Linked DNA regions of Homo sapiens: all the other regions are linked to region 4. The links come from fine-mapping of genetic effects on gene expression. A gene starts in region 4. Each other region holds a variant in brackets. All regions are shown on one strand. Distances are from middle to middle. Region 1 overlaps FRMD3 (FERM domain containing 3). Region 2 overlaps FRMD3 (FERM domain containing 3). Region 3 has its middle 15 kb from the start of IDNK. Region 4 holds the start of FRMD3 (FERM domain containing 3). Region 5 overlaps FRMD3 (FERM domain containing 3).

Evidence for each region. PIP is the estimated chance that this variant, and not a neighbour inherited with it, causes the effect.
Region 1: its variant is fine-mapped to the expression of FRMD3 in whole blood (INTERVAL, PIP above 0.99).
Region 2: its variant is fine-mapped to the expression of FRMD3 in whole blood (TOPMed, PIP above 0.99).
Region 3: its variant is fine-mapped to the expression of FRMD3 in monocytes (Quach 2016, PIP 0.95). The same link has a PIP of 0.9 or more in monocytes after LPS and monocytes after Pam3CSK4.
Region 5: its variant is fine-mapped to the expression of FRMD3 in whole blood (INTERVAL, PIP 0.91).

Annotation. Positions count from the first base shown.
Region 1 is chr9:83,244,494-83,250,757 of GRCh38, reverse strand. It overlaps FRMD3 (FERM domain containing 3), which reads left to right. Exons shown (of 14, transcript NM_174938.6): 14 at 2,242-6,136. The coding sequence ends at 2,840. The region is part of intron 2 of FRMD3-AS1 (FRMD3 antisense RNA 1); the gene reads right to left. Among named protein-coding and RNA genes, the nearest start is that of FRMD3-AS1, 28 kb to the right of the region's middle. The variant C/T (reference allele first, on the strand shown) is at 3,308.
Region 2 is chr9:83,258,968-83,265,231 of GRCh38, reverse strand. The region is part of intron 13 of FRMD3 (FERM domain containing 3); the gene reads left to right. The region is part of intron 2 of FRMD3-AS1 (FRMD3 antisense RNA 1); the gene reads right to left. Among named protein-coding and RNA genes, the nearest start is that of FRMD3-AS1, 43 kb to the right of the region's middle. The variant T/G (reference allele first, on the strand shown) is at 2,734.
Region 3 is chr9:83,604,825-83,611,088 of GRCh38, reverse strand. No RefSeq gene overlaps it. Among named protein-coding and RNA genes, the nearest start is that of IDNK, 15 kb to the left of the region's middle. The variant T/C (reference allele first, on the strand shown) is at 3,287.
Region 4 is chr9:83,536,061-83,542,324 of GRCh38, reverse strand. It overlaps FRMD3 (FERM domain containing 3), which reads left to right and starts at 3,924. Exons shown (of 14, transcript NM_174938.6): 1 at 3,924-4,240. The coding sequence starts at 4,094. RefSeq lists a silencer at 5,677-5,971.
Region 5 is chr9:83,289,011-83,295,274 of GRCh38, reverse strand. It overlaps FRMD3 (FERM domain containing 3), which reads left to right. Exons shown (of 14, transcript NM_174938.6): 13 at 4,548-4,672. LOC124902190 (a long non-coding RNA gene) reads right to left here. Exons shown (of 3, transcript XR_007061614.1): 3 at 5,408-6,264. Among named protein-coding and RNA genes, the nearest start is that of FRMD3-AS1, 73 kb to the right of the region's middle. The variant T/C (reference allele first, on the strand shown) is at 2,566.

The DNA.
Region 1 (6,264 bases), 290 kb after region 4:
AGCTGTCCAGCCACAATCTGGCAAGACAGCTGTGCTACATTGTGGGGTACCCTTCCTCTTCTGGTCTATCTCTGTTCTCCACAGCCAGCAGGCTGGAGCAACTGAGTCAACTAAGCTGCATAGATGGTAGCCATCCCTTTCCCCAGGAACTTAGACCCACCTCAAGCAGACTCCAACCTACTGCCATTAGCTGGCTGGGATTCCAAGCCAGTGGGTCTTAACTTGTGAGGTGCCATGGAAGTGGGGCCCACAGAATGAGGCTACCTGGGTCCCTGGATTCAACCACCTTCCTAGGGATATGTACAGATAGATTTCCTGCCTTGCCAGGGATCCTGGGGCCAGAGTATGTAAAACTCCTGGGTCTCTGTGTGTGCCTGAGTGGCTGCTCTGCCGAGACTCCACACAGCTCTGTGTATCAGACCCAAGGCCCTGGTGGCCTGGGCTCATAAGGGCATCTCCTGATCCGCAGGTTGCAAAGATCCAAAGGAGAAGTGTGGTTTCCTGGGTGGGGTCACACAATCACTCAACACTGCACTTGGCTGGGGGTCGGGGTGGGGTCTCCTTTGCTTCTGTGCATCTTCCAGGTGGGCCATCACCCCCTCTTCTGCTTTTCTTTATTCTCTGTGGGTTGAGTTGTTTGCCCAGTCAGTCCCAATGCGAGAACCTGGGTATCTCAGTTTGAAGGTGCTGCATTTACTAGCCCCTTTTTATTCATCTCCATGAGTGCTGCAGACCACAGCTGCCTCTAATTGGCCAGCTTGGGTTCCAGCGTTCTGAGTACCTGTTTTTAAGTCTTTGGAGTATGTACCTGGGAGTGGTATTGCTGGGTCATCTGATAACTTTATGTTTGATTTTTTGAGGAACTGTCAATTTTTTTCTCACAATGGCCAGAACCAATTATAGTTTCACTGGCAATATGCAGGGTTCTAATGTCTTCACATCCTCACCAACACTTGTTATTTTCAGTTTTTAAAAAAGCTGTTGCCATCTGAGTAGGCATAAAGTAGCATCTTATTGTGGTTTTGACTTGCATTTCCCTAATGATTAATGATGTTCAGCATACTTTCATGTGCTTGTTGACCTTTTGTATATTTCTTGTATTTTTATGGTATTTTTCATTTGGACTTCTCAGTGCTATCAGACTAGAGCTATCATGAAATATCTGTTGATTTTTGAATGCTAAAACCAGTAAGTTATGCCTGTACACCTTGAAGAGAGAAAAATCACATAATAGATTCATTAAAAGCTGGTTTATGGTTCCCGAAATGCACCTGGCTGCCATTTTGATTGTATGGTAGATCCATCCTGGAGGACACTTCTTTGATGCTAACTTTATTTCCCACTATGGATCCAAGACTCAAAATTAGCAGAGTTAGCCCTAGGTCTGACCATAGGTAACTCGATTTCCCATCAGTAAAATGAGGCATTGAGAAACACCTCTCTCTCAATAAACATTAGAAAAAGTTCTTACCCTTTGATTAAGCAATTTCCCTTCTAGCATCTATCTATAGCAAATGAACTAAAACAAGAGGGGAAAAAAAGCTTTATATGTAAAGATGTCTCATAGCATTTTCTCCTTACAACTGCAAAGCAATCTAAATGTTTGACAATAGGCAACTAATTTATTGCATAACTAAATAAAAAATTTGGCAGCTTTTATAAATAATACCAATGGGAATTTGTTTAAACATAGAAAATATTTATGTTAAAATTTTAAATGCAAGGAGCATGATTTAAGCTTGGGTATATAATATGATTGCAAATATATAAAACTAGAACACAAAATTGTGTCTAGAATGAAGACTAGAAAGCAATACATCAGAATAATAAAGAGATTGTCATTGAATGACAGATTCTGTTGTTTTACTATAATATATCGGGTGATATTGTTGACCTCTAAAAAAACAGTGCTCATAATTATAATAGTGAATTTATTGTCATTTTATTCAAGCAAACATGGCCAAGGTTCAAGGTTTGCAGATCAAAATTGCACACCTAAATGTTGTAAATATTGCCAACCATTTGAGAAGTGTTGGTTAGTTTGAGTTTAGCATGTTGACCTTTGAACTTATGGTACAGGGTCTTTTACTATAATACGACTTTGTTACAACTTAGGATACCACAGAATAATTTCATAGATTGCTTGAATCCCATTAGTTTTTTGTTTTTCTGTTTCTTCCTGCAGATTTTTGTGGGAAAATCTGAAATTTTAAATTTAGAAAAAAAAATGTCTCTTTACAGGTGTTCCATTGCCTAAAGAGGAGAACATTTCTGCTCCCTTGATCTCCAGCTCCCCAGTGAAGGCAGCCCGGGAGTATGAAGATCCCCCTAGTGAAGAGGAAGATAAAATAAAAGAAGAACCTTTAACCATCTCTGAACTAGTGTACAACCCAAGTGCCAGCCTGCTCCCCACCCCTGTGGATGACGATGAGATTGACATGCTCTTTGACTGTCCTTCTAGGCTTGAGTTGGAAAGAGAAGACACAGATTCATTTGAGGATCTGGAAGCAGATGAAAACGCCTTTTTGATTGCTGAAGAAGAGGAGCTGAAGGAGGCTCGCCGTGCTTTGTCGTGGAGCTATGACATTCTGACTGGCCATATTCGGGTGAACCCACTGGTCAAGAGTTTTTCCAGGCTCCTTGTGGTGGGCCTGGGACTGCTGCTCTTTGTATTTCCCCTGCTCCTCCTCCTTTTGGAGTCAGGTATTGATCTCTCCTTCTTATGCGAAATCCGCCAGACACCAGAGTTTGAGCAGTTTCACTATGAATACTACTGTCCCCTCAAGGAGTGGGTGGCTGGGAAAGTCCACCTCATCCTCTACATGCTGGGTTGCTCATGAAGTTAATCTCTCACGTGACTAAGGGCTATATTCAATGCTAGTGATTTCTTTTTTTCAGCAAATGCCTGGTTCTGAAGGGTCACGGGGCTGTCAACAGGTGTTCCTTACTCATAATTGATTATTCAAACCTTTAAGTTAGCTTTCCATAATTCACTGCACTTAAATAAGTTTAAATCAAATACAGTTATTTTAGTTACAGGTTAGGAAGATGGTCTTTAAATAACCAAAAATATGTTTATTTTTTATTATAGTGTAGACATACCCTTCATCTATTATATCATAATACATGTTACATTGGACTGAATTAGATTTTCCCATTTCTAATAGTTGGCACCATTATAAGCTATAAGGTTCAGAATCAGAATTTTAGTAACAACTCAAGAGAAAGTTGTTGAATATAATCCTTAGTGAAAACAGTGTCCTCTAACCAATGCCTATACAACTAAATTTATGCTGGGTTTTTGGTT[C/T]TGTTTTTTTAAAAATATTTTTATGTGTTCAAACTATTTTGGTAAATTTTTAGCAAAAAAAAAAAAGAAGCCTCCTGGAGTTATTTACATGTACAGATTGTAAGACTAATGCACAAAAGGTATATCAGAATTTTTTTAATGTTTTGGCGCTACTTTGTTTTTAAAAATATTTTTGGCTGAACAATACCATAATTTGTTATGATCTGCATAGGAGATAGAAAATGGGTAGAAAGACACTATAGTAAGTAAGCTGCTAAAACAGAGGATGGAACTGGAGGATGTAGAAACTGAGAGCATCAAGTGGACTCAGGGTGGTCCATTTTTCAAAGTATTTGGACAAGAGGACTTGTTATTTTCATTTGTATTCTGTCCGTATATTTTGGCTGGAGAAGCAGATGTTTTAAAAAGAAAGTGAGAGTTTAAAGGAAAAAAGGTAACAGATGTGCTAGTCAGTTGCATATCAATGTACATTAACCCAAGAGTGAAGGCAGATAGGAACTGGAGAAATGGAAAGTGGCAAAAATGAGTTCTGGTGAGGCTGGCAGGCAAATGGTGACAGGCGAATGGTCTATTTTATGAAAGTGATGGTGATGCCAGCGTTCGATGATGTGAAGAGCAGTGCAGTCGCTGTCTGAGTTAACATGAACATGTTTAAGTGGATCTAAATAAAAGTGGAGAAACTTTAAGGTAAATATTTTGATCCCTCATGCCATTTGTTGTGATTCTGTAGAAGAAACTTCAAAAATGTGTTTGTATGTGAGTGTGCGTGTGTGTGTGTGTGAGAGAGAGAGAGAGAGAGAGAGAGAGAATATGAATGGCTTTTTGATACATGTCCATGATCATGTTTTGCGGTGGTCATTATACTCCTTTCCTTTCCCAGTTGTTTTAAAATTTGACTTCCATAGAGAAACTGGAGAGGCCTCATGAGATGACATACCAGTTCAGCCTGGGTAAAGTAGTGACATGACCCTAACCAGACTGTAGAGGGGACCAGTGCTCTAGTACCTTCCTTGATACCATTAAATCCATGATGGAAAGGATTTAATCCAACAATTTAATGGTATCAAGGAAGGTACTAGAGCATTGTACCATCAGCAACGTACTGATGCCTTCCCATGCAGACTACCTGCTGATACTGTGTTATGTGGGAGAAAGATAAGAGTCTAGAACTTATGCCATGGAGCATAGAGCTTCTCTGTGGATTGAAAACATTCCACTGCCCTAATGTACAAAGTTACAGGGCCCACTTGGAATCGCTCTCTCTAGCTAATGACATTCCAACCCTATCATTAGCATGATTTCTAAATTGGGCAATACATTTCCACTCACTCAGTGGAGCTCTGAGTACTTCACTGGACATTTAATTTTGGAAATGAGTTTTGAAACTCAGTTCGTGAAGCCTGCAGTCGAGCAAATGACTATATATTTGCCATTAAGTTTGAGGGGTTTCCTTTCCTATATGCTTTCAGTGATTTATTTTGCTTTTTAAATAAAGATTGTTTGTTTATTACCTGAAAGTTGATACTGATTTAGGAATATATTTTCTGTGATTGGAATCCTCAACAATTTATTTTGGAAGCTTGCAGATGGCTAGGTTTGAAATTGAAATTTGTGTTTTTCTCCTTCTTTTCTCATACGACTTCTAAGTCATCCTTTCTGACATAAGGCAACTTTAGTGTAGTCTGCACAAAATTAGTCCCCTTCTGATCATGCGTCATATAATTTTCTCTAAAGTTCTGACTATGACAAATCATCTGGCCCTCAGTCTTTCAAAATAATATTATATAATATTTTTTAAATTATGGAACTAATATATTTTCCATTGTAAAATACTTAAAAAATATGATAGTATAAATATCACATGTAATCCAACGATGCAGATTTATCTTAAGGAGTAATAAATATATTATTTTAACATTTCCAGCTAACATCTCTTTTCTCTTAGGTGGAAACTTCATTGTTGAATAGAAATGTTTTTAAGTGAAGAAGTTGACAGAATAGGGTCTGCTGAATTTAAACAGCCATCAAAAGTTAAACTGGAATCTTGAAATGCCATTTGCTCGGCATAGAATCAGAGCCTTTTAGAAACATCCATTTAAGTTTTGTTAGAAGATAGTCACCAGTTGCCTGAATCGAATGAGGAAAAGCCTGCTTCCAGAGATGGACAGTATATTATAGAGTGAGATATAGAGTTTAAAGCAAGTGTGTGAGTATATGTATATTCCATATTATTGGTATATGTGTGTTTATATATGAATCTGTATATATGTGTGTCTTTGAATAGACACAACATATATGCCCCTCATGCATAATTGTGCTTATTTTGCCCTAATTGAGGAATTTGAGATGTATTATTGGTTCTTCTCCCTCTCAGATACTATGGTGGGTAAAACCCACAGCCTGAAAGGGTTAAATTTTCCATAAATGCCACTGAGTGTACATTTGTGGATATAAATAAATATATATAATACACACACACATATGGCAAATACATATACACACACAATATTGCCTTTAGTGCTAATGCAAGTTGGATCATGAAAACAATGTAGGTAAAGTAAAGTATGTATTTGTCTGTGCTTGAAAAATATTGTAAAATGTTATGTATTTGGAATATATTTTGTGGTTTGTCTAATATTTATAAACACAACTCGGGGTGAATTCACAATGAGTTTATTTCATTGAAATACTAGAGATATGGGGGCCATGTTACTGTGATTGGAGCCTTACCTTTGTATAGTGAAATTTGCATTTCTATGTCAACATCCAGATTGTTTTATATGTTAATATGGTGGCAGGAATCCCTAATAAAAATACTCTGGGGTAAAATTTTTTGCAATCATTCAGTTTTATTTAAAGTAAAGTTGTATAGTCAGGTTGTTGGAAACTATAAAAGGATTCCCTCTAGGACCATGAAATGAGGTCAACATATAATGGTGATAGTATTAAAAAAAAAA
Region 2 (6,264 bases), 280 kb after region 4:
AGACGGGGTTTCACCGTGTTAGCCAGGATGATCCCAATCTCCTGACCTCGTGATCCGCCCGTCTTGGCCTCCTATAGTACTGGGATTACAGGCATGAGCCACCGCACCTGGCCGACACGGGCACTTTTTATATGCACAGAGAACTTCTGTATGTGCAAACTATTTGCTTTCTGTATATTTTAGGTTTCTGTTTTTATGTTAGTTTTCCCCATGCCAAGATTATAAAAGTGTTTCCTGTTTTTATTCTTCATAATTAATGCATTTACTTGAACTCTATGAAATTGCTGATAATAACTGCTTATGACCTTCAAAATTGGCAATTTCACGTGGTATCTAATTTTTTTTTTAGTTTAACCCTTTATCTTCTTAGGAATTTTTACACGTGCATGACATGGTATAGGGATATACCTTCCCCCCTCCCCCCACAATTGGTTAGCAACTTTTTGCAAAACTTTTTCATAAACAAATTTTCCATTATATTAAAGGGTATATTTCTGAATTATATCTTTTATTATTCCTGCTCCATTACTATACAGTATAGTTTTAATATCAGGTAGGTCAGGTTTCCCCTGCATTGCTTTTTTTCAAAGGAAGTTATACTTTTAGAATGATTTTTAGGTTCACAGTAAAATTAAAAGGAAGGCATAGAAATTTTCCACATATGGGGAATTTCCCTCACACATGCTCAGCCTCCCCCATCATCAACATCCCACACAAGAGAAGTACATTTGTTACACTTGATGAGCCTGCATTGAGACATCATGACTATTCAAAGTTGATCGTTTGCGTTAGGGTTCACCTTGGTGGTGTACATTCTGTGGGTTTGGACAAATGTTTAATGGCATGTATCTACCCCTGTTGTATCATACATAATAGTTTGACTGCCCTAAAAGTTCTGTGTTCCACCTATTTCTCTCTCTCTTCCCCTAATTCCTGGCAACCACTGGTCTTTTTATGATATTCATAATTTTGCCTTTTTCAGAATGTCAATTAGTTGGAATCATACAATATGCAGTCTTTTCAGACTGGCTTCTTTCACTGAATAATATGCATATAAGCTTCCTCTATAGCTTTTCATGGCATTTCTTAGCACTGAATAATATTCCATTGTCTGGATGTGCTCACTGATTTATTTTCCAGAAGTTTTTGATTATTAATGTGTACATTTACCATTTGTCTTTTTTGAAAGTGTGTTGGATTTTCTATTGAAATTGCATCAAATTTTAGATTAATGAGAGGAGAGCTGAATTTTCAATGTATCAAGGCCACTATTCAGGAACAATATTATGTTTTTCTATTTATTGAGATTTTCTTTTATGCTACTTTGTTATATTTTAACATTGTCCTCATGCAAGTTTTCCAGGCTTCTTGTTATGGATATTCCTGGATATATATGGATGTTTTAATTTGTGCATTTGGCTATTTTGAATGATACTTTCCATTATCATTTTTTATATTGTCTCTTCTGTATGCAGTAAACCACCTGCTTTAATATGTTGATCTTGCATTCCAACACCTTTTTAAACTCTTATTAATTGTCCTGTTTCATTTTCATCTCTTTTCTATGTAGATAATTCTATTATCTGGAACTAGAGTTTTGTGCCTTACTTTCCAATATTTACACTTCTTATTTTTTGTCTTCATCATATTGCATTAGCTAGGGCCAATACTGATGTGTGGTGATAATTCTTTGTAATGTTCCTGACTTTGGTGGGAATTCTTCCAACGTTTTGCTATTATATAATGTTTGCCATGACATGTAATGATTTCTACAATTCTCTAGTAGATATTTCAAGTCCCTTCCTTTCAGGAGATAAAATTTTAGTGGAAAAACCCATAATAAATCTGCAGCACAGTGTAATGACTGACTGTGAAGATAAAGAGATCCAGAAGATGGTATGACAGCTGCATCACTTAGGATGCCATCATCAGCAAGTAATGAGGAATTCTAATTAGCACTGGTTTAAATAATAAGGTGATTTATTATCCAAGACAAGTCCAGAGTCAGAGAGGATTCCAGGGTTGAGGACCAGTTTCATTTTATCTCTACATCACTCTTCTCAGTCAGCCAAGCTTCCCCTCATGCCGTTGCTGTCAGCACCATAGGACGGCTGCCAGTTTCTGCTGTTTCTTTCAGTTACAACAATGTCAACAGATAAGGAGTCTGTACCATTCCAGGATGATCTTCTTAGAAGTAAAAACCTTTCTCAAAAATCCATCCCCTCAGGCCCCCTCCCCTCTTCCCCTTTGATTTTTATTTTCAGGGTTGGCCCATATGCCCGTTTTAAAACCAAATGTGACCAAGAGACTGGAATTACCACGACTGGCTTAGACTAATCATTTGGAGAGAAATGGGCCATAAGGAGTCAACCATGAAAAGTACCAGATAAGTAGCATATATCTCAGTCCGGGAGTGGGGGATAGGAGAGCCTTCCCAGAGGACATAACACATAGGGTCTTAGAGGATGAGTAAGAGCTATCTGGGTGCAGAGGACATTCCAGGAAGAAGTAGCAGTCTGTGCAAAGACACAGAGGCATGACATAGCATGACACATATGGGAACCCCTCAATAGGTGGGCAGGGAGGAAGCGTATGTGGTAGAGTAATGCTTTTTGTACCAGGCTAAAGAGTTTAATTTAATATTTAACCTGAAAGGCTGAGAAACCTTTTAAGAAGAGGACTGATATAAATAATTAGGCATTTAAAAATGATTATTCTGGAAACAACTTACAA[T/G]AAGCTGGACTGAAATCAAGGAAACCAGTTAGGAAGCCATTGCTATCATCCAGTTAAGAAGTGATAAGAATGGAGAGGCAGGGATAACTTTGAAAATGAAGAAGGTGGCAGAGTTTGCAGAAGTTAATGACAGATGTGAGCAGTGCATGAAAACAAGTAATTTTGGCCAATCCTTGGATTGCTGATATAAGAAACTGAAGAAAATATGGTGTCATTTACTACATAGTGTGTGTTATTGGAGGTAAAGAGTTGGGAGGGAGATGATGCATTTGGGTTTGGATGTATTGAAGTCGATGTTCCTATGTACAGTTGCCTGGTAAATCTCATTGGAGGGTTCTGAGTTGAGATAGACCAGAGATTCAGCAACATGGATTTTCCAAACTAAGTTGTGTTCTATGTTCTCTGGGAGAATTAATTTGAGAAATATTGAGTTACATGAAACTGATTTCTTCTATTCAGGACCTTGCAGACATTTTTATATACTAGTAGTAATATTATTGAGTGCTTACCAGTGTCAGGCACTTTGCATGTATTAACTCAGGTATTCCTCTCCACACAATATCTGCATGCAGTATGTGCTGAAATTTTCCCCATTTTACAGATGAGGAAACTGGGAATAGCACAATTAGGTAATTAAGAAACTGTCGGTGGCAATTAGTACAAAGCCAGGATTCGAACCCAGAAAGGTGACTTCAGAGTTTGGATTTTTAACCTTGATGGTAATATCCAAAAGAGTGATAGAGTGTGCAGTTTCCCAAACTTAGCTGACCATGGAACACTCTTTTCAAGGGACAGCTGGCAGAACCTTAAGGGACACTGGTGACCTGTAGTACCAGGTTGAACAATACTGTAGTAGCATATTGGAGCCATAAATATGGTTGAAACACCAAGAAAGAGGGTACAGAGCAAGAAGAGCAGAGAGTTTAGGCCCTCACAAGTAGTGAAGAGACTGTGAAGACAGAGGTAGCTTAGAATCATTGGATGGAAACCAAGAGAGTATGGAACCTCAGAGGTTGAGTGATCTGTAGGAGGACAGAAGAAAACACTCATTGGCTTTAGCAATATGGTGATCATTGGAGACTTTGTGAGAGCCATTTCAGCAGGTGGGGAGAGCAACTGACCATGGTGTCAAGATGGTCAGCAAAAGTAGAGGCATAACCAAGAGGCTGGCAAATGATGGCTACTTGGAGAAGAGAGAGTTTAGTCTGCAAGGATGAAGCCTAAGGATGGGGAAAGAAGAACAAGAAGAATGCCAGCCTATGCTGGCAGCCCTGAGTCCCAGGAGAAGATGTTTACATGAGAGGCAGTGTTCCAGATTTCAGCTGGGGAGCAGCGATGGGAGAGTATTAGGATCTGCTGTGTGTGTGTGTGTGTGTGTGTGTGTGTGTGTGTGTGTCTAAGTTTCCTTTTGTGGATACTTTCCTGAGTCACTGGAATGACTCTTCATAGGTTTTTAATAGAATGAATTGGTGACTCCCAAAGATATTCAGAGGCACCAGGAACATTTGTAGTATTAGATCTTCTGCAGTGTCCATTGCTGAAAGTAAAAACTCTCATCTGGAAAAGTAAATGTCATTCTTAGGATTTTTCTTTAAACCCATGGGACAGGAGTTTCGCTTGAAGTATTAAACTTTATCCTCCAAAAAGGAGCGATAAAGGAGTCACATGTGAGGTTAATGGTATACTATCTTACTAAATTTTAGAAGTCTGCATGCTGCTTATTGTGAATAGAAAACATTTGAGGGACTGATAGAACATGTAGAGAGTATAGTAATAAAGTTTATTTTATTTCTAACCTAAGTCATTAAGTCCCGCAACAGCCAGTGGTTTTTGTGTATGTGTGTGGCTTCTATCGTGGCTATGATACCATCACAGGAGAGCTTACTTATAATTAAGTTATCATAAAATTTATTTGAGAGTGAAAAGGGAATTTTAACAATACTGCCATACTGACACTATGACAGACATAGAGTGGGACTGTTCCAGGCAAATGGGGATGAATGGGCACCCTACATGTAAGGACACCATGGGTTCAGCAGATGAAATGGGGCCAGTAACAGAGAAGCTTCTTCCCCCTTAGTTAAGAAGTGAGAGTCTCTCTGGGCTTCTCAGATCTCCTTCTCTTCAGCCAACATGGTAAGTTTGGAGAAAGCATGGGCTTTGGAATCAGACAGGCATGGATACAAACCTCCGCTCTGTTGCTTCCTAATTTTGTGACCTTAACTTGCCTATGCCTCATTTTTCTCATGACTTATGAATATCACATGCTCATATATTTAAAGTATCCAGCCGAGTAGACATTTATTAAAAATCTTAGTGCCCCTGTCTCCTTTTCTCTTTCTACATATAACTTTAAGTAGGACAGTTTATGGACAGACATAGTCTAAGATGGAGCCACAGAATGCTGGACTGGGGAGGGTCTGGTCCATTTTGCAGGTAAAAAGTCCAAGACTATAGAACTGAAGTGGCATGCCTAATGTTGTTCAGATAGCCGTGGCTTAGCTGGGAACCTGAGTCCAGGTGTCTTAGGCCACTGCTCTTTTCACTCCATCATATTTTCCAGAAGTGGAGTGGTGATCTGCTCTTTTTTCCTCTCCCACTCTTCCTTCACCTTTCTCCTTTTTACCCTGAATTCAAGAGTACAGCATGCCTCCCAGAGCAAGTATTGCCAAGATGATCAACATTAGATCACTCAGTTTAGCCCACCTCAGGAGGAATGGGTCTGGTTAGTAACAACTATGAGACATCTATAGAGACCTGACAGTTTCACATGTGCTTGAGCTGTGGTTGTCATACTTTCAGGTCCAGTGTCCCCCTAAAAAACAAAAACCTTGTAATGTTCTCGCTACCATCCTGAGGTGTAACTTTTAGAAAACACAGTCTACCTACACTTAACTAAGTCAAAATAATGCTCTAACTGTAATATAAGGAGAAATTAGGAGAAAATTATTTATAATAAGAATTTCCAAAGGTTTTTCTCAAGCATGACTCACTAGAAGGCAGAATCAAAGTGTGAGATACTTTGAATAAGGGGAAAATGGGCATCAAGGGAACCACCCAACAGACGCAGGGTGGTGACATGTGCCATGAGGTAGGCAACTCAACTCCTTAGCATCCCTGATGATGATGTGATATTCTGAACTGCTAAATCCTCAGCAAAGATCTTCCCTGAATTTACCCAGAGGTTGTATTCCTGAAAAACTTAAAATATGTTAAAATTACACCCCAAATGCTTTTTGTTTAAATGTAAAACAGATCATTATAAATAGGTGTTCCATCTGTATGGATAATATCTGATATCTGACATTTGAAAGTTGTGTGGTATACAAAATAATTCTTCATTTTGTGAAATTCTCCTACACATTTCAGCATGTCTGGCATCCCCGACCCCTACCCATCAAATGACACTAGCCCCTCCAATCATTGTGGCATCTATAAAAGCCTCTATTATGTTCTAAAACACCTTCCTCCCAGCTGAATGGTGGTGCTTTCTTTATACCACTGCTCTGGAGGTTTAATGGGTATTCCATA
Region 3 (6,264 bases), 69 kb before region 4:
CACACTCTTTTTTTTCTTCTCTGTAATAAATTCTTAGTTAGCTTGAAGGGTAGGGGGATGTGGATTTCAACTCAATCAAATTTCCTTGTAGACTTAGCCTGAAGCATAGGGGGATGTGGATTTCAACTCAATCAAATTTCCTTGTAGACTGAGAGTCACACCTATTGTCACACCGGGAATTTGAGTATACTAAGTCTTCAGTGATATTAGAAAACTTTCTGTAGTTGCATCTTTTATTGAAGATTCAGAAAACATGTCAGACCCGGGCACAGAGCTCATGCCTGTAATCACAGCACTTTGGGAGGACAAGGCAGAAGGACTGCTTGAGGCTAGGATTTCGAGACCAATCCAGGCAACATAGGAAAACCTTGTCTTTCTCTCTTTATATATATATAAAAAGAAAATATGTCAGAATATTTAAGTGCCCTGGGTCATTATAAATATCAATGATCATCACATAGGGTTGTAGTTACCTATTGCCACATTACAAATTACCCCAAAACGTAGCAGCTTAAAACAGCAAACATTTATTATAGTACAGTTTCTGAGGGCCAGGAATCTGGACTGGCAGTGAAGCTGTCAGTAGGGCTGCAGACTCATCTGGAAGCTCAGCTGGGGAAGGTGCTGCTTCTATGCTCACTCACATATTGTTGGAGGCCTCAGTTTCTTGCTGGCTGTTGGCTGGAGACCTCAGCTGCTCGCTACATCTGTTTCTCCATTGGTTGCCTGAGTGGCTTCACAACATGGTAGTTGGCTTCCTCCAGAGTGAGTTATGAGAGAGAGACAGAGACAGAGATAGAGAACCAAGATGAAAGCCACAACCTTTTATAACCTAATCTTGTGTCACAGTCACTTCTGGAACAATATGGGAGGGAATTATACAAGGGTGTGAATGTCAGGAAGTAGGAATTATTGGGGGTGTTGTCTTGGAGGCTGGCTACCACAGACAGAATTTATAATGGAGTAAATCCTCCTTTTAAAAAACATTATTAGTTGTAGTAAAAAAAAAAGCCCCAGAAAACTGTCAAATACCATATGTTCTTACTTATAAGTGGGAGCTAACTAATGTGTAGATATGGACATAAAGTGTGGAATAATAGACATTGAAGACTCAGAAGGGTGGGAGAGTGGGAGGGGCTGAGGGATGAGAAATTACTTATTGGGTATAATACACAATTCAGGTGATGGTTATACTAAAAGTCCAGACCTCACCACTGTGCAATATTTCATGTAACAAAATGGCACTTGTACCCCCTAAATTTATACAAAAAACCCCCACAAAACAAAATTTACCACCTTAACCATTTTTGAGTGGACAGTTGAGTAGTGTTAAGTGTATTCACATTGTTATGCAACAGAGCTCAGAGCTCTAGAACTTTTTCATCTTGAAAAATGGGGTACTTTCTTCCCCCCAGCTGCCAGGTGTGTGTGTGTGTGTTTTAAATTTCAGTAGGTTTTTGGGGAAACAGTTTGTGTTTGGTTACACGGATAAATTCTTTAGTGGTGATTTCTGAGATTCTGGTGCACCCTTCACCTGAGCAGTGTACACTGTACCCAATGTGTAGTCTTTTTATCCTTCACCCCCCTCCCACCCTTTCCCCAGAGTCCCCAAAGTCCATTGTATCATTCTTTTTTTTTTTTGGGGATGGAATTTCACTCTTGTCACCCAGGCTGGAGTGCAATGTTGTAATCTCAGGTCACTGCAACCTCTGCCTCCCGGGTTCAAGTGATTCTCCTATCTCAGCCTCCCGAGTAGCTGGGATTAAAAGTGGCCACCACCAAGCCTGGCTAATTTTTGTATTTTTAGTAGAGACGGAGTTTCACCATGTTGGCAAGGCTGGTCTCGAACTCCTGACTACAGGGGATCCACCCACCTTGGCCTCCCAAAGTGCTGGGATTACAGGCGTGAGCCACTGTGCCTGGCCGATTGTATCATTCTTATGCCTTTGCATCCTCATAGCTTATAGCTTAGCTCCCACTTATGAGTGAGAACATACAGTGTTTGGTTTTCCATTCCTGAATTACTTCACTGTACTTTGGCCTCTTTCAGCCATGGTTGGAGCGGCCTGGGACACGCAAGTCTCTAGGCTGCACACAGCATGGGGACCCTGGGCCCAGCCCACAAAACCACCTTTACCTCCTGGGCCTTTGGGCTCTTATGGGAGGGGCTGCCGTGAAGTTCTCTGACGTGGCCTGGAGACATTTTCCCAGTGGTCTTGGGGATTAACATTAGGCTCCTTGCTACTTATGCAAATTTCTGCTGCTGTCTTGAATTTCTCCTCAAAAAATGGGTTTTTCTTTCTACTGCATCATCAGGCTGCAAATTTTTCTAACTTTTATGATCTGTTTCCTTTTTAAAATGGAGTGTTTTTTCTTTTTGAGACGGAGTCTCACTCTGTCACCCAGGCTGGAGTGCAGTGGCACGCAGTCTCTGCTCACTGCAAACTCCGCTGCCTCCCAGGTTCAAGCAATTCTCCCACCTCAGCCTCCCGAGTAGCTGGGACCACAGGTGTGTGCCACCATGCCTGGCTAATTTTTGTATTTTTAGTAGAGACGGGGTTTCACTATGTTGGCCAGGCTGGTCTCGAACTCCTGACCTCATGATCCGCCCGCCTTGGCCTCCCAAAGTGCTGGGATTACAGGCGTGAGCCACCGCGCCTGGCCCGGAATGCTTTTTAACAGTACCCAAGTCACCTCTTGAATGCTTTTCTGCTTAGAAATTTCTTCTGCCAGATACCCTAAATCATCTCTCTCAAGTTCAAAGTTCCACAGATCTTTAGGGCAGGGGCAAAATGCCGCCAGTCTCTTTGCTAAAACATAACAAGAGTCACCTTTGCTCCAGTTCCCAACAAGTTCCTCATCTCCATCTGAGACCACTTCAGCCTGGACTTTATTGTTCATATCACTATCAGCAGTTTTGTCAAAGCCATTTAACAAGTCTCTAGGAGGTTTCAAACTTTTCCACATTTTCCTGTCTTCTGAGCCCTCCAAACTGTTTCAACCTCTGCCTGTTACCCAGTTCCAAAGTCGCTTCCACATTTTCAGGTATCTTCTCAGCAATGCCCCACTCTACTGGTAGCAATTCATTGTATTAGTCTGTATCCACACTGCTGATAAAGACATACCTAAGACTGGGAAGAAAAAGAGGTTTAATTGGACGTACAGTTCCACATGGCTGGGGAGGCCTCAGAATCATGGCAGGAGGCAAAAGGCACTTCTTACATGGCAGCAGCAAGAGAAAAAGAGGAAGAAGCAAAAGGGGAAACCCCTGATAAACCCATCAGAT[T/C]TCATGAGACTTATTCACTATCACGAGAATAGCATGAGAAAGATTGGCCCCCATGATTCAATTACCTCCCTCTGGGTCCCTCCTGCAACACGTGGGAATTCTGGGAGATAGAATTCAAGATGAGATTTGAGTGGGGAGACAGCCAAACCATAACAAAGTCTTTGCCTAAGTCAATGTCTAGAAGCGTTTTTTTCCAATGTTATCTTCTAGAATCTTTATAGTTTCAGGTCTTAGATTTAAGTCTTTTATCCATCTTGAGTGGATTTTTGTATAAGATGAGAGATAAGGATCCAGTTTAATTCTTCTACATGTGGTTTGCCAATTATCCCAGCACCATTTGTGGATTAGGATGTCCTTTCCCCACTTCATGTTTTTGTTTGCTTTGTAGAGGATCACTTGACTGTAAGTATGTGGCTTTATTTCTGGGTTCTCTATTCTGTTCCATTGGTCTGTATGCCTGTTTTTATACCAGTACCATGCTGTTTTGGTGACTATGGCCTTATAGTATAGTCTGAAGTAGGGGAATATGATACCTCCAGATTTGTTCTTTTTGCTTAGTCTTGCTTTGGCTATTCAGGCTCTTTTTTGGTTCCATATGAATTTTGGGATTTTTTTTTCTAGTTCTGTGAAGAATGATGGTGGTATTTTGATGGGAATTGCATTGAATTTATAGATTGCTTTTGGCAGTATGGTCATTTTTTGTAATTGATTCTCCTCATCGAGGAACATGGGATGTGTTTCCATTTGTTTGTGTCATCTATGATTTCTTTCAGCAGTGTTTTGTAGTTTTCTCTGCAGAGGTCTTTCACTTTCTTGGTTAAGTATATTTCTAAGTATTTTATTTTATTTTTTTGCAGCTATTGTAAAAGGGGTTGAGTTCTTGATTTGATTCTCAGCTTGGTCACTGTTGGTGTATATCAGGGCTACTAATTTGTGTACATTAATTTTGTATCCTGAAACTTTGCTGAATTCATGTACCCAGGGGCTTTTTGGATGAGTCTTTAGGGTTTTCTGGGTATGTGATCATGTCATCAGCAAACAGTGACAATGTGACTTCCACTTTACCAATTTGGATGCCCTTTATTTCTTCCTCTTGTCTGATTGCTCTGGCTAGGACGGATACTTTCTTATACCTGTATTTCTTGTTGATCAGACACTGGTAGACGGCATTACCCTGATTTTGTGCTCTGTTTGGTTTAGATACTTCTTTCTGCCCCTGTCTGTGGTCTACTGACTTAGTGGCCCCTTTTTTCACTCCGCTCTGTACCAACATCCCTTGCCCTTACCATGTGACTCTGCAGTCCTCTGTGTGAAGCACTGTGCCCCTTGTCTTTGGGCTTGGCCATCTGACTTACTCTGGCTGATGGAGTGAAGGCGAAGGTGACAGTGTGCCAGTTTTGAGCCTAGGCCTTAAGACGTGTCACTTTTTCTGCTTGACTGCTTATGCTTCTGCCATCACCTTGAGAAGAGTTTGCTGCTGCCTACGAGACTGTTATCTCCTGCCCCCTAGAATTGACACACATAGAGCAGATGTAAGCCCAACCTGCTATGAGTAGCCCCAACCAGTTAGACCTTTACCTTAAAGCCAAGCTGCCCAGCTGAGGCAACTGCCAATCAATCTGTAGATACCTGGGTGGGCTCAGCTGAGAGGGCAGAACCCATAGCCGTGTGAGAAGTAAATGCTGAATGTTGGGTGTTGCTGATATTTGTGGTTGTTTGATACAAACTGATGTTCTGCCCTTTTCCACTCTGACTTCTGCCCCACGGGTTCCCAGACACACTCACATATCATCACTGTTTTTTCTTCTGCACTGTCATGACACCTGTCTACTGTTTGAGTTGACTGCAGCAGGTTCCAGAAGTAGTCTATTCACTGAGGATGAGCAGGAAAAGAATAACAGTCCCTCAGAATTACAGACATGAAAAGTACCTCAAGAGTTTCTGCACACGGGGTTTCTGGAAAGCAGCTGGTACTGCTGTGAATGTTCCTTTTCCTCCTGGGGAGCAGAGTCACATTCTGCAGAACATCCACTGAATATGCTGAGGCAAAGCATTTGCCATGGTGATGTTTTGTGCAAGATGGTGCTTATTGATTAACAATGGCCTGGTTCATGATAGATAGTGATGGATTCAATATGGATGAATTTATCACGATTAGCAATAATGTTGACTTGATACAATATGCTGATGATTAGTTTATTTTTTATATCTTAAAGGATCATTCATAACCTTTTCCATAGTCTTCTTCTGACCCTCTGCACCTCCTTCCCAACTTCCTCTAGGATTGTTTTTTTTTTGTTTGTTTTTTGTTTTGCTTTTTTTTTTTGAGGCAGTCTTGCTCTGTTGCCCAGGCTGGAGTGTAATGGTGTGATCTCTGCTCACTGCAACCTCCACCTCCCGGGTTCAAGCAATTCTCCTGCCTCAGCCTCCTGAGTAGCTGGGACTACAGGTGCCTGTCACCATGCCTGGCTAATTTTTTGTATTTTTAGTAGAGACGGGGTTTCACCGTGTTAGCCAGGCTGGTCTCGATCTCCTGACTACGTGATCCACCCGCCTCCAAAAGTGCTCGGATTACAGGTGTGAGCCACCGTGCCCGGCCAGGACTGGGGTTTTGAGAGGACTGGCATGTCTCTAAGTATATTTCATCCTTGATATGGTTCATGTTTATAGCACCTAGCACACTGCTGCATTCAAAATTAGTACTTGAACGCCAGTGACCTAACACAGTGCCTTTCATGGCAACTGCTCAACAAATAAATAAACTTATTGGTTAAATAAGGTAAAAAAGGAAATCAGTTCTGTTGGCTTCAATTTTCTAATCTGTTAGATCAAGGGGAGAGGGTCAGTGAAGTAGATGATTCCTAAGGCCCCTCTTTGGCTTGAGCCTTTATTACACTTCTGAGACACAGTAGCTGGGGTTCTGGGACACCTGGCTCTGCCTCTAGCTGTTGGTCTGACCCCTGAAATCCCACCACCTG
Region 4 (6,264 bases):
ATTCAAGATGCAATATTTACAACCATCAATCTTTTGTGGGCAGGCCACCTGTTATCTATTTGTGGCTTACCAAAGTGTTATAACCCATTGGTTAGGCATATTTTTTGGTAAAGAATATCAGTTACTATCACTGAGCGTGAGACACTAATTAATCTCACCCATTGCCACTTCTTTAGTAAGAACTGGACTTGCAGCCACTGCTATGGCTGACATTCTAATGCCTCAAGTGGAGCCACCTTTCCTGTACTCAAATGTCCTCTGTTTGTTGCCTGTCATCCCAGCTACTTGGGAGGCTCAAGCAGGAGGATTGACTGGGGCCAGAAGTTCGAGACCAGCCTGAGCAACATAGTGGGACCCAATCGGTAAAAAATAATAATAATAATAAAAAATAAAAAAATGTTTCTGGTTGTCTTTGGGGGACAGGTTCAGATTTGGGAATATTTGTAGGGGGATTTTAGCCTGGCCTTTGTTCACCTGGTGTAGAAATCTTGTTTGTCCTATAGATCAAATTGAGTCCTAGTTGGATGCTTGGCCACCAGCAAAATCCCTATGAGTCACACCATTCTGAAGTCTACTTGGGTACCACTGCTTATGATTGTACCAAGCCCTCCCTGGCACTGAGGGTTAAGTCATGCACCACTATTTGTCTTCTGCCAGCCCAGGCTCTCATCCTTCCCATTTAAGTCAGGGAGCTCCTTTTGACTGCAGTGTCTTTCACAACCATCTCTTGCTACAAAGAACAGCCACTTTGGTGCTTTTCAAAGATGGCAGTCCTTCCTTTGCCAATGATTCTTTGAAAATCTTGGTGGATGCCCCCTCAGGGGACACAGTTAAAGAGAGGTAAGCTGGCCACATGTGGAAATACACTGCAATATTTCCATCTCCTTGATTCTTTGGATCTTTTCCTGTACATGTACCAGGGAATTTCCTTTTTCTCATCTTCATTTAGCTGAGTCCAGAAGTCAGTTAGTCAATTTAGATAGTACATTGAAACCAGAGTCATTGGGAAGTGAATTCAAATGGACAGATTCAGGTTTATTCACACATATACTCTTCAATGTAAATTAGCAGAATCTTGCAATTCTTTCTCTTCTTGGGGTTGACTTTATAGTTGGTCTCCTAGGGTGTGACTGAATCTGGTTCAAGTATTAAGAGTGAGAGTAGTCAGAGATGGTGGGAGAGGGGTGGGAGGAGATCGGCTTCCCTTTCCAAGGTAACTGCCTTAAGTGAGTTCCGAAGAGGATCTTCAAACAAAGCAGGAACAGCCTCGTTACATAAGGAAGAGGGCATGCTTCTGCTGCCAAGGGAGTTTGGGGGCTTGAGTGACTAGGAATCATTCAAGTTTTCTTTTATAGTCCTATTCTTATTCCCAGATTCCCACTCTTTCCTGCTGATAATTATAAAATCTTGTGAGGCCGATAATTCAATTGACTTTGTAATTTGGCGATTTGTAGATGAAATTGTGAATTTGGTTTTTCAGTTTTGGCCTTGTGGCTCAATTAACAAGATATTCTTTGAGCTCTGTTGTTTGTAAAAATACAGTTGTTTAAAAGTCATAAGCTGATAATTTAGGACTTAGTGCATCACTACTTTTCTTTCAGTGGTCCAGTTTTAAACTCATCCCTTGAGTTCATTCTTTGAGTTCTTCCTAATCTTCATATTATTATTATTATTGTTGACAATGGCCAGTTGGTTTCCCAGAGCCTTGTCTTCATTGGGTAGTTCAATCCAGGTGACCATACTTGGTAATTTACCTAGCTGTCATGCCAAGTGCTTCCAGAGCCTGTATTTTCATACTAGTTGAATCTCAGCCTTTATTCCTAATCAGGCCAGACAACCAATCTCAGATTCTTCTCATTTCTTCAAAATTCTGTTTCTTACAGTCCCACATTGGGTTATCTTTATTCTGTCTTTTTCACTACTGTCCTTGTTGGTCTTATTTTGCTTCCTTGGAATTTGGGGTAACAATTTTTGGGTATTGATATGACTCTTTTGGAGCCTAACGGTCACTATAATAGGATGGACAAGTGTGTGTGTGGTCTTAAAAGAAAAGCATGGACTGTTTGGCTGGTGACTTTTCTTTGATCTCTGGGCTGTCTGCTCTTTTGGCTAGCAGAGATGATCCAGTTTTCAACTTGGGGCAGGTCCCATCCCTGCCACCTCATATGTGCATATGGGGATTTACAGATTACAGCTGTAAGATGTCCTCCACTGACCCGGTGTCATACCAGCTTCCCAGCCACCTGTGGGATGAACAGGTGTTCTCTCCTTTGAAATGAGAAAAGAAATGGAGAGACTTTTCAAAGATCCCCAGGATTAGCCAGTAGCTGGGCCAAGAATGAAATCCACATCTTCCCATACCCTCAATACTGACCTCTCCATCAGGATCTGCCCTAACATTTGAAGGGCCCAGCTCAAGAGCCTACATGAATGCCCCATACTATCATCTAAATATTCATAAGCAATAGTCAGCTATTGAGTGCTACATAAAACATTCTCTATCCTCCTATCTTGACAAATTGTTGCAATTTGGAATTTCCAGGAGCAGATACTGAGACTGAGTTTGTCCTGTGTGGTATTTATTAGTGATCAACAGGGAGAGGAGGCAGGAGCAGGCAGAGAGAGAAGTCCAAATGCAATGCGGACTCCCCCAAACCTTAGCCAACCCCACTAGGTGTCCTAGAGAATATATGGCCCACCAGACTGTCCAGGGCAGGTAAAATTTGTGTGCCACTCTTCCTCGACCCCCAGGACAGGGCATATCTTTGGATGAGGGGACTCTATGCAGGCACAAACCTTGAAAAAGCTGACAGCTGGTCAACACCTCCTCTTCTAACAAATGTTCCTTCCTAATGACCTGTTCTGCTCCGGCAAGAGCAACAGGGTGAGAGGACTTCCATCTCTCCCAGCTCCTGGACATTCTAGTGCTCACATTCAAGCTCCATACCCCTGACTCAACAGCTGCTCCTGGCCACTCTCGGGCCTACGGTACCTGACACAGTGGCTCTAGCCACCTTGGGGACAACAGAGAGGCAGGATACCTCCTACCTTCAACACCCTGGAGGCGCGTGGGGAATTCCAGAGTCCTCAATACCCAGAGATTGGACTAAAACGGGATGGGGCACATCCGCTTTGCCATTAGACCTCTTAATTCCTGAGCAACCGGGAACTGGAGGAGGTCTGTAAAGCAGGGGAGTAGGATAGGAACCTATCCCTCTTGCTCGGGTCAAAGGTATGCTATCAAAGATCACACTAAGATGTTGGGAGATTTAAAGGAGGATTTGCACATGGAAGGCTCTTTTTTGGAGAAAGAGACTGAGTCCTAGCTAGCATTAAATAAAACAATGGCTTAAACAATCTCCATGAGTACCAGAGATTTTTACTATTAGCGATATTCCTGGTGTAGCCGTGTCAGGGCTGTCACTCTCTCTGTCACTCGCCCTGGGCCCAGCAATCCTTTCCCGAGGCGGAATCCCCCTGGCGGTGTGGGTCAGGATCGCTCTCCGTCCCCTACCCGCGCCAGGTCCCTGGAGCTGAGCAGAGCAGGGCGCTGTCGAGCGCGTTGGGGAGCCGGGGCCGGGACGAGCACAACCGGGAGCCCGAGCGACAGCGGCCAGGGGAGGGAGGAGGCGGTGAGGCTGAGGAAGGCAGTCGGGCCCAGCTTGACGCAGCGGCGGCTGCGACTGAGCAGGCCACCACCAGGGCACCCGGGCCAGCCGCGCCAGCCATCCCTCCGCCTCCTCCTTCAGCTGCTCGGCGCGCGTGGGAGTGAGTGCGTCGCGAGCCCGCCGGGGGTCTCAGGCTCTGGGCGTCCTCGGCGAGCGAGCCCGGGCAGAGGGAGGCGCACGAGCGCGCGCGACAGAAGGAGGCGGGGAAAGGAGGGGGCGAGGCGGAGGCGAGCGAACAGAGGGAGGGACCCGCCCGCCGCGCCCCGGCCGCTGGGCATGTGTGTCCGCAGGCGCCCGACGCTGCCGATGTCCCGGGGCTGAGCCGCGCCCAGGTGTCCCGGACAGTGCGTGCGAGCGTGTGTGTCCGCGCAGGCGAGCACCGCGCCGGCCCTGAGCCTCCCGCTCGCTCCCCACGGCCGCGGTGCATGTTCGCCTCCTGCCACTGTGTGCCGAGAGGCAGGAGGACCATGAAAATGATCCACTTTCGGAGCTCCAGCGTCAAATCGCTCAGCCAGGAGATGAGATGCACCATCCGGCTGCTGGACGACTCGGAGATCTCCTGCCACATCCAGGTGCGCGTGGAACCGGGCGAGGGCGCGGGGCACACGCCGGGAGCAGGGCGGGGGGCCTTTGCGGTGGGCATGCGAGAACAAGGAACCCACTCCCGGAGGGGATTGGGGGACTGCTAGAAAGCCAGATTTCGATTCCTCAGGCCTCTGAGGGTGGGGGGCCTTATCCTGGCATGGAGGGGCATGGTGCCCTGCAAGCGCCAGGCACGCGTTATCCGCGCCCAGTCTCCTTCCCCTCGCGTGCACCCTGCGCGCGCGTCTCACTGCGCCCGGGCTAGGGGCGCGGGGCAGCTGCCTCCGGAGGGACTCTGGCCCCTCTGGGCCCTACTCCGCCAGGAGATGGGAGCTCCGAGGGCTGAGAGGGGCACCTGCATGTCGCCCACTGGTATTTCCTCCCTTCTTCCACGTGGAGAAGGCATGCATCAGCTGGGTTCACTCATTTCTGTCTCCCGCGCCCAGGCTCCGGAGACGCCCTCAGTCCCGGAACCTGCTTTCCGCTCCGTGTCGGTCCCCCTCACCCTCCGCCGGTGGTCTTTAGTTCTCCGCGTGGGGCGGTGGCGAAGTTTCCCCAGAGTGAGAGAGGCCGGGCTGCCCTGGGCGCCAGCCTTGAGGGATGGAGCGCGCGCTGCGCCGGACTGGAGCTACCTCGAAAGGAATGTGTGAAGTCTGAGTGTTTCGGAGAAAGGAAAAGGGATTGTGAGGCCAGCAAGTGGGGAGCCCTGCAGGAACCTGGGTCCTGGGTAAAAGAGCCCCGTGGAATCTTGGTGGACATTCACTGTCGCCCAAGTTGGAGGAGAAGGCGAGTTGTTTGGGAGAAGGCAGCTTTGCTGGCAGCCCTGTCCTCGGGTAGTAAGTGCCTCTGGGCTGTCAGGAGAGCTAGTGTGAGGTGCAAAGGTGTGTGTGTGCATGTGGTTGCGCGTGCGTGTGCATATTTGCTGTGGGTGAATATGTAGGCAGGTGGGAGCCCCTCTTCCAGGACCCCAAAGATGCCCCACTCGGTGCGCACACAATCAGGAAAGGTTGTGTCAGGGCTCAGCACAATTAACTTCTGACTTCTAAATCTATTTAACTGTTTATCTCTGGGATTTCCTTTCTCACCTACCCTAGTCGAGTCTTGAGGCTCTGGGACTGAGCTTTTTTTTTTTTTTTTTTTTTTTAGTGTAATACAGGGCACACCACCCATGTCAGTGGGAGGTGAGTGGGGCAGCATCTCCCAGAGTAGGAATCAGCCTCTAGGCTGTGCAAACCATGAAGGAATGAAAGGACTTTCCCTGTTTTATTTTTATTTAATTTTTGTTAGTGGGAGTGTGTGACATGTTGGGGGCAGTTGCAATTAATTTGTAACCTGACAGCCGGACAAGTGTCAAGGTAGGAATGTGATGCCCCATGATCTCCCAGGAAAGTAGGCTCCCATTGAATTTTCTGGGGGAGCTTGAATTTCATTCTGAGCTAAGCAGCACTGCTAAACTTAATAATAAAAGGATTAGCAGGATAGGCAGTGTTTCTACTGCCACAAGGGTTGCACAGAAGCATCTGGCATGTACTAATAGTCTTGTGATCCAGAGAGTGTGGACTGTGCACTTTGCTTTAAGTCCTAAAGTGGGTGTACAGGTCCTTTAACCCATAATGAATGTGTAGATGATGGAGGGGCCGTCAGGGAGAGAGGCTGTTGAGTTCTCCTCTGTCTCTCAGCCCTCTTCTGCCCTGTACCACTTGGTGTTGACATTTTTTTCCCCTCCCTCAGGATGAAGTCTTCCTTAGAATAATAAATATTCCCCAAAGGACATGTATTTGTTGTCTTGTGTTTTGAGAAACAATAAATTGTAGCCAGTCTAACAACAGTTTGAAAAACTCCAGTGCTTATGACCCAACTAGTGCCAAAGAGGTTAAAATGTTATGTTTCAAAATGTTGGCTTGGGCACTGATTTTTAAAAAATTATGATGTTTCATTTTGTGATTTGTCTTTTTCTGCCCTTTCTGCCCCCAAATTACAATTATTATTTAACCAATTAAAATAAATTAAAATA
Region 5 (6,264 bases), 250 kb after region 4:
TAATGTCAGTTTCCTCACCTGTAAATATGGTATTTTTCTTGCCCATCTTACATGCACAATGAGAAAAACAAATGGGATAAATATATTCAAACCACATTTGCCCCAGTATTAGAATATAATTGTAGTTCCCAAAGGAAACCTTTCTATTTCAATAGAGTTCTTAATGACAACTTCATTTGGAGACCATTCTATGCTGGGAGTACATGCATGAGTGGGGCTGCAAAGCGGGCCAGATATTTTTGCAGAGTCATCTGATAGATGGATTCTGAGAGTGGAGAAACATGGCACGTATCCTAGCCTGGCCTGGAGGGACCTCAGGCATAAACACAGTTACCTCAGGAGTTCAGGTGGAAAGGCAGAGTGGAAGCTGACTGGGACATCTGCACATACTTCAGAAAGTGCCTGACACAGTGGGACCTCATGTAGCCAGAAACAGGAGGACAGTAGGGGTAGCAAGCAGAGTCTCCTTTGGGACATTGCAGGCCAAATCATGCAGAAAGGCAGTGTGCAGCATAGCAAAAGCCTTGGACCAGGAATCAGATTATCTGGCTTTGAGCTTTGAGTCCTAAGTTTGCCCATATAAGCGTCTTTAGTCACATTACATAAGCTCCCTGAGTCTCAGTTTTCTCATCTGCAAATATGACATTTACCTTGCCTGTCTTATAGGCAAGACGCACTAAGAGAAAAAGATGAGGTAAAGTTTATACAAACAACTTTGCAAATGAAAAGAAGATAGCCATTCAAATTTGCGTATTATATTTGTCATTAGTTCAATTGGGCTGGCGGGCTCTTGCTTTAAATGAAGCCAGGATCAGTTGGCACCTTTAAAAAGTTTAAAGAGAGAATTAGGTAAGAAGGTGTAATCTTTAGTTTAAAGGAGTTGGTAGATTTATTAGTCCAGTTGGGTTGCTATAACAAAATACCATAGACCAGGGTGGCTTATAGACAACAGAAATTTATTTCTCACAGTTTTAGAAGCTGGGAAGTCCAAGATCAAGACACCAGCAGATTGAGCATCTGGCAAACACCTGCTTCCTCATAGATGGTGCCTTCTTGCTGTGTCCTCACATGGCAGAAGGGGGAAACAAGCTCTCTCAGACCTCTTTTATAAGGATACTAATTCTATTCATGTGATCATGACCTAATCACCTCCTGAAGGCCCCACCTCTTAATACCATTACATTGGAGTTTAGGTTTCAACAAATGAATTTTAAGGAAACACAGACATTGAGGCCATCACAATAGCGAAAGGTGGGAGACTTGGCCTGTTGTTTTTTAATGTTGCTGACTCTTTCCCCCAGGCTGTCAAAGTGCCTCACATTGGGCTGGGAGCCCTGGATTCTTTGTGCTTCAGGGAAATCCCTAGTTGTATCCACCTTTGGGTTTATCTGAGTCTTATACTTATCAGGGAAGAAATGTTCTTCTCTGAGTCATATTATTGGAGAGTCTCAGGGTTGTAATCCACTGCAGGAGTCACCTGGTCTAATACAAGGCACGTCCTATATGCCCCTGTCCCTGGCCATGGGCCTCTGCTACACCAGAGAAACAGGAGCCTATGAATGTAGGGGCCGAGCTGGCATCCTCCTGGCCATCTAATGCCAAGGCAGGCTCATACCTGGGATATCAGCCTGGTGAGCCCAGCCTGTCTTAGAGCTAGGCAATTGTCTGGACATTGCAATGTTGTGGGTTGGGGGCAGCAGGATGCTTGGTATCTCCAGCTACAGAATGTTGGAAGGAGGTCTGATGGGGAGCAAAATAAGCTCATAAAGGCTCACCGAGGGCCCATCGTTGTAGCATAAGCAGTGATTCCTGGGGATAGGAACAGCAGCCAGTCCAGCTGGCATGGATGGTCAGAGGTGGAGTAGAGCAATTCAGAACTGCACGTGCAAGAATGGATGGATGGGCTTTTCAGAGGTCAGAAAGCTACACAGACCACACAGGAATGACAGTATGTTGTCCTTGCAGAGTTAGAATCATAGTCATGAGTGGCCATGACCAGAAGAAATCCCAGGAGAGCTCAAAAACTGAGAACCCTTCACAATAAAAGAAGAAACTGCTCATGGCGAATTTTTATCCCTCCCTTCCTCCCTCCCTCCCCTCCTTCCTTTTGTAAAGATTTCTCTATCTACGGTTCTTTCCCTGTAGAAAGCACTGTGCTCACCAGAACAGCTGCAGGCCTTGCCTCCCTTGGGAGATCACTCCTGGCTCTCTCCTCACTCACACCGGATTAGGTGCCCCTCCTTTGTGCTCCCATGGGACCCTGGCCATCAGTCACCTTCATGAGAGGCACGGTGTTCCAGCTGTGGCTACAGCACATAAAGGAGTCATGTGGCTGGGCGTGGTGGCTCACGCCTGTAATCCCAGCACTTTGGGAGGCTAAGGTGGGTGATCACCTTAGGTCAGGAGTTTGAGACCAGCCTGCCCAACATGGTGAAACAGTCTCTACTAAAAATACAAAAATTAGCTGGGCATGGTGGCAGATGCCTGTAATCCCAGCTACTCGGGAGGCTGAGGGAGGAGAATCACTTGAACCCAGGAGGTGGAGGTTGTAGTGAGCCGAGATCG[T/C]ACCACTGCACTCCAGCCTAGGCGACAGAGTGAGACTCCGTCTCAAAAAAATAAAAAATAAAAAATACAAAGTTGGGGGTAGTTATGAAATAAAGTAGTGATCAAGACTGGGACTTAAAATGAACTAGAATTTTAAAATAGTGGATTATACATAGATATGTAACTATTGTTCCATAAGACATTAATTTCAGTTGTGCTTCTTCCTGTGTGTGTTTGGGTACAGGGAGATTATATAAAATGTGTTTCTTGGGGCTGGGCGTAGTGGCTCAAGCCTGTAATCCCAGCATTTTGGGAGGCCGAGATGGGCAGATCATGAGGTCAGAAGATGAAGACCATCATCCTGGTTAACACAGTGAACCCCGTCTCTACTAAAAATACAAAAATTTAGCTGGGTGTGGTGGCACACACCTGTAATCCCAGCTACTCGCGAGGCTGAGGCAGGAGAATTGCTTGAACCCAGGAGGCAGAGGTTGCAGTGAGCCGAGATTGCACCACTGCACTCCAGCCTAGGTGACAGAGCGAGACTCTGTCTCAAAAAAAAAAAAAAAGTATTTATTAATGTAGGTCTCAGACCAGAAAGCTTAAAAATTATGGTTCTAGACAGTGAGTTACTTAAGGTGAGGACTACAGTTCTCTGGAGCAAAGCAGAATGTCCAATTTGTATATATCAGCTGCAGAGTAAATGGCTGTAAAATGAAATAATGAAGAAAAGGACTCCATGGCTAAGCAAGTCCTCATAAATTTCCTTTCTAGCCCATGCCAGCCATGGGAGCTTTTAATTCAAGATGGTAGCAGGCATCTTGCTGTTCCCCACTCCTGCTGCCCAACAGAAACACTCAGGCTAGAAGGTAGTCCTGCAGCCGGTCTAGGGAACACTCTGACCAGGCTGAAATGGCAACATATGTCAAGCCAGGATTGCATTTGGTGCACTTTAGTTTCAAACCTGAACACATTTTCACAAGATGCCAAGTGAGATGCACAAGTATGGCTGGCTCAGTCTCTGCCCTTAAGGTGCTTATCTAGGTGGGGATGATCAGTACACCAATAACTAGACAGAGACAGAGGTGAAAATGCAGTGAGTTATGAAAGAAGAGAAAGTAGTCAAAGAGAGGGAGAGGAAGGGAGAGAGAGAGAGAGAGAGACTGTGTGCATTGGGAGGAGCAATCTGGGAAGGCTTCCAGGGGAAGGAAACATTTGACTCCTTTTTAAAGTATGCACTGGTTTTGGTTTTGACAGGAAGCATGGGGAGTGAGGAAGGGTGTGCAAACATCCACCTGCAGGCAGACTAGGGCAAGCAGCTAGTATCTCTGCAGCAGGTAGGGCAAGCGGGCTCCCCAGCTCCCAACCAATAGGCTTAATGAGATACCTGCACAGTTTCCTTGCCATCTGTTGCTAGTCTCAGCCAGACACACCTGCATGCTCCTTTCCAGAGGAGAAAACAGAGCCATGGCCAGTTAGTGAGTAGGGTGTAACTTTGAGAATATTAAACACTGATATTAAACATTGGACATCCAGCAACACAAAGATAGCTTATAGCTGTAGAACATCTGCATCATCTATCTGGCAGGGGTTTTTGTTTTTGTTTGTTGGTGGTTGTTAAATTTCTCTGAGCCATGCCCTTCATTCACTTTTCTACATATCTAGTTCAGTGCTAGCTACCTCCCATGTCTTTTTGTTTCTTCTTTCTTTTTTTTTAAAAAACGCCCAGGCTGTCACCTAGCATGCTCAGGGCTGGTGATGTATTGGGAACTGTATTTTCTTTCGTTGAGTTGCAGTAGAACATAGGGACATTTGGTCAGGACCTTAAGAGCAGAAAGGGCCATTTATCTTGAATGTTACGTCATCTTTACTACTGGCTCAATTCACTGTGTCTGGAGGTAGTTCCCTGTAGACACAAAATGGTAGCTTGGGCAGCCCGCTGAGATGGAGGGGCCAGCATTTGTGATGGAAACCAACTCTGTCTGGCTTGTGTCTGTTTTCAGAGCCAACATTACTCAGAGCCGCAGTTCCCACTCCTTGAACAAACAGCTCATCATTAACATGGAACCCCTGCAGCCCCTGCTTCCTTCCCCCAGCGAGCAAGAAGAAGAACTTCCTCTGGGTGAGGGTAAGTCTGTCTCTTCATCCCAAATGCTGGTGCTGCAGGCTTCCTCTGGAAAAAACAAGGGAGGCGCCAATTCTGCATATGATGGGTAATTGATTAGTGTATGGGGTGGAGTGGGCCATAAACTATGTTTTTAGTAAATAAGCTTTTTGCAGCTGGAAGGCTGTATTATACTGGGAGCTCTATTAGTTTCTCTTGGAGAGACTTCACTGGTATAAAGTATTTCTAAAATTATATATGAAAAGACTAATGGTGTTAGACCTACACCAGTCCAGTACACTAACCATTAGCCATGTGTGGCTGTATTAAACTAAGTTTAAATTCATTGTAATTAAAAATCCATTTCCTCAGTCACAATAGCCAGATTCTCAGTGCTCAATAGCCACATGTGGCTGGTGGCTGCCATATTGGACACTGAGACTGAGATAATTTCCTCTATCACTGAAACTTCTATTGGATGTTGATGTCTGCCACTGTAATCACAATTAAATTGGTGGCAATAAAGAGTTCTCCACAAGTATCTCTACACTCGTCATCCCATTTATTCCCCCAGGCTTCTTGTTCTTGATCCTTCATTTACATTGTCCAACAGTTTTGATACAAGCTAAAAAAAAGTGAAGTGTCCACTGCAACCCCCACATTTGTTATATTTTTAAAGATAATAATAATATGTGTGTTTCTAGGCATCTTTGTTTTTAAGGACTCTCCTTACTTCAGGGAAGAATCTCACCACAATGCTTGCTGCAAACACCTGCAGACATCTCACATTTTATTAATTTCAAAGATTTGTTTAAATTAAGTTGATGAAATTAATTAAATTGAAAACAAATGCACACAAAATAAACTTATTGGAACCTTTGAATACAAACATGCTTTTTCTTAACTTTGTGATTCTGGTTTCATCGTTGAAAATCTGGATACTGGGCAGTTTCAAGAGGGCAGATCACTCTGTCCCCAAAAGATCACCTTCACCTCCAGCTTCAAGTCAAGAATTTATTTCACAGGAGAAAACTTCTTAGTCTATAATAAGGATATGGCTTGGAATGCAGATACCCTTGAGATAGGTAGCAGCAACCAATTTGCAGTGACACATAAAAAATTCTAGTAAATCTTTTCCTGAAAGGCAGCTTTGATGGTTAGAAGGAGAACTAGGCAACTGGATGCCCAAAATTCCATGGGTGGAGGAAAAGTGTGCAAAGTATGAAAGATGGGATCTTAGAAGACACTACTTGTCTTCAACTGGGCTACAAGAGATGATGATAATGAGAACACTCTTGTTATAAATGGCTTTTGTTATCTATCTTAACAATGAACTCTGTAAGTTCCATGCCAAATGAATTTCCTTAGCCTAAGGGCCTCTGGGTCCATGTTGCTTGTCTGTGTTTTTCAGGAGATTATCTGTTTTTGTGTGTTTTGCAAATGAAAGAAAAGCAGTTTTAATTTCTGGTCACTAAGGGTTTTCTGAGTTTCTTCCTATATGCTTGGAATATTGCTTTGAGTGAAAATCATTTTTTCTGAAGGTCATGATTATCCCAAGTTTAAATGAAGGAGGGTGTGGCTAATAGAGAAGAAAAGAGAAGGGACATCTCACAACT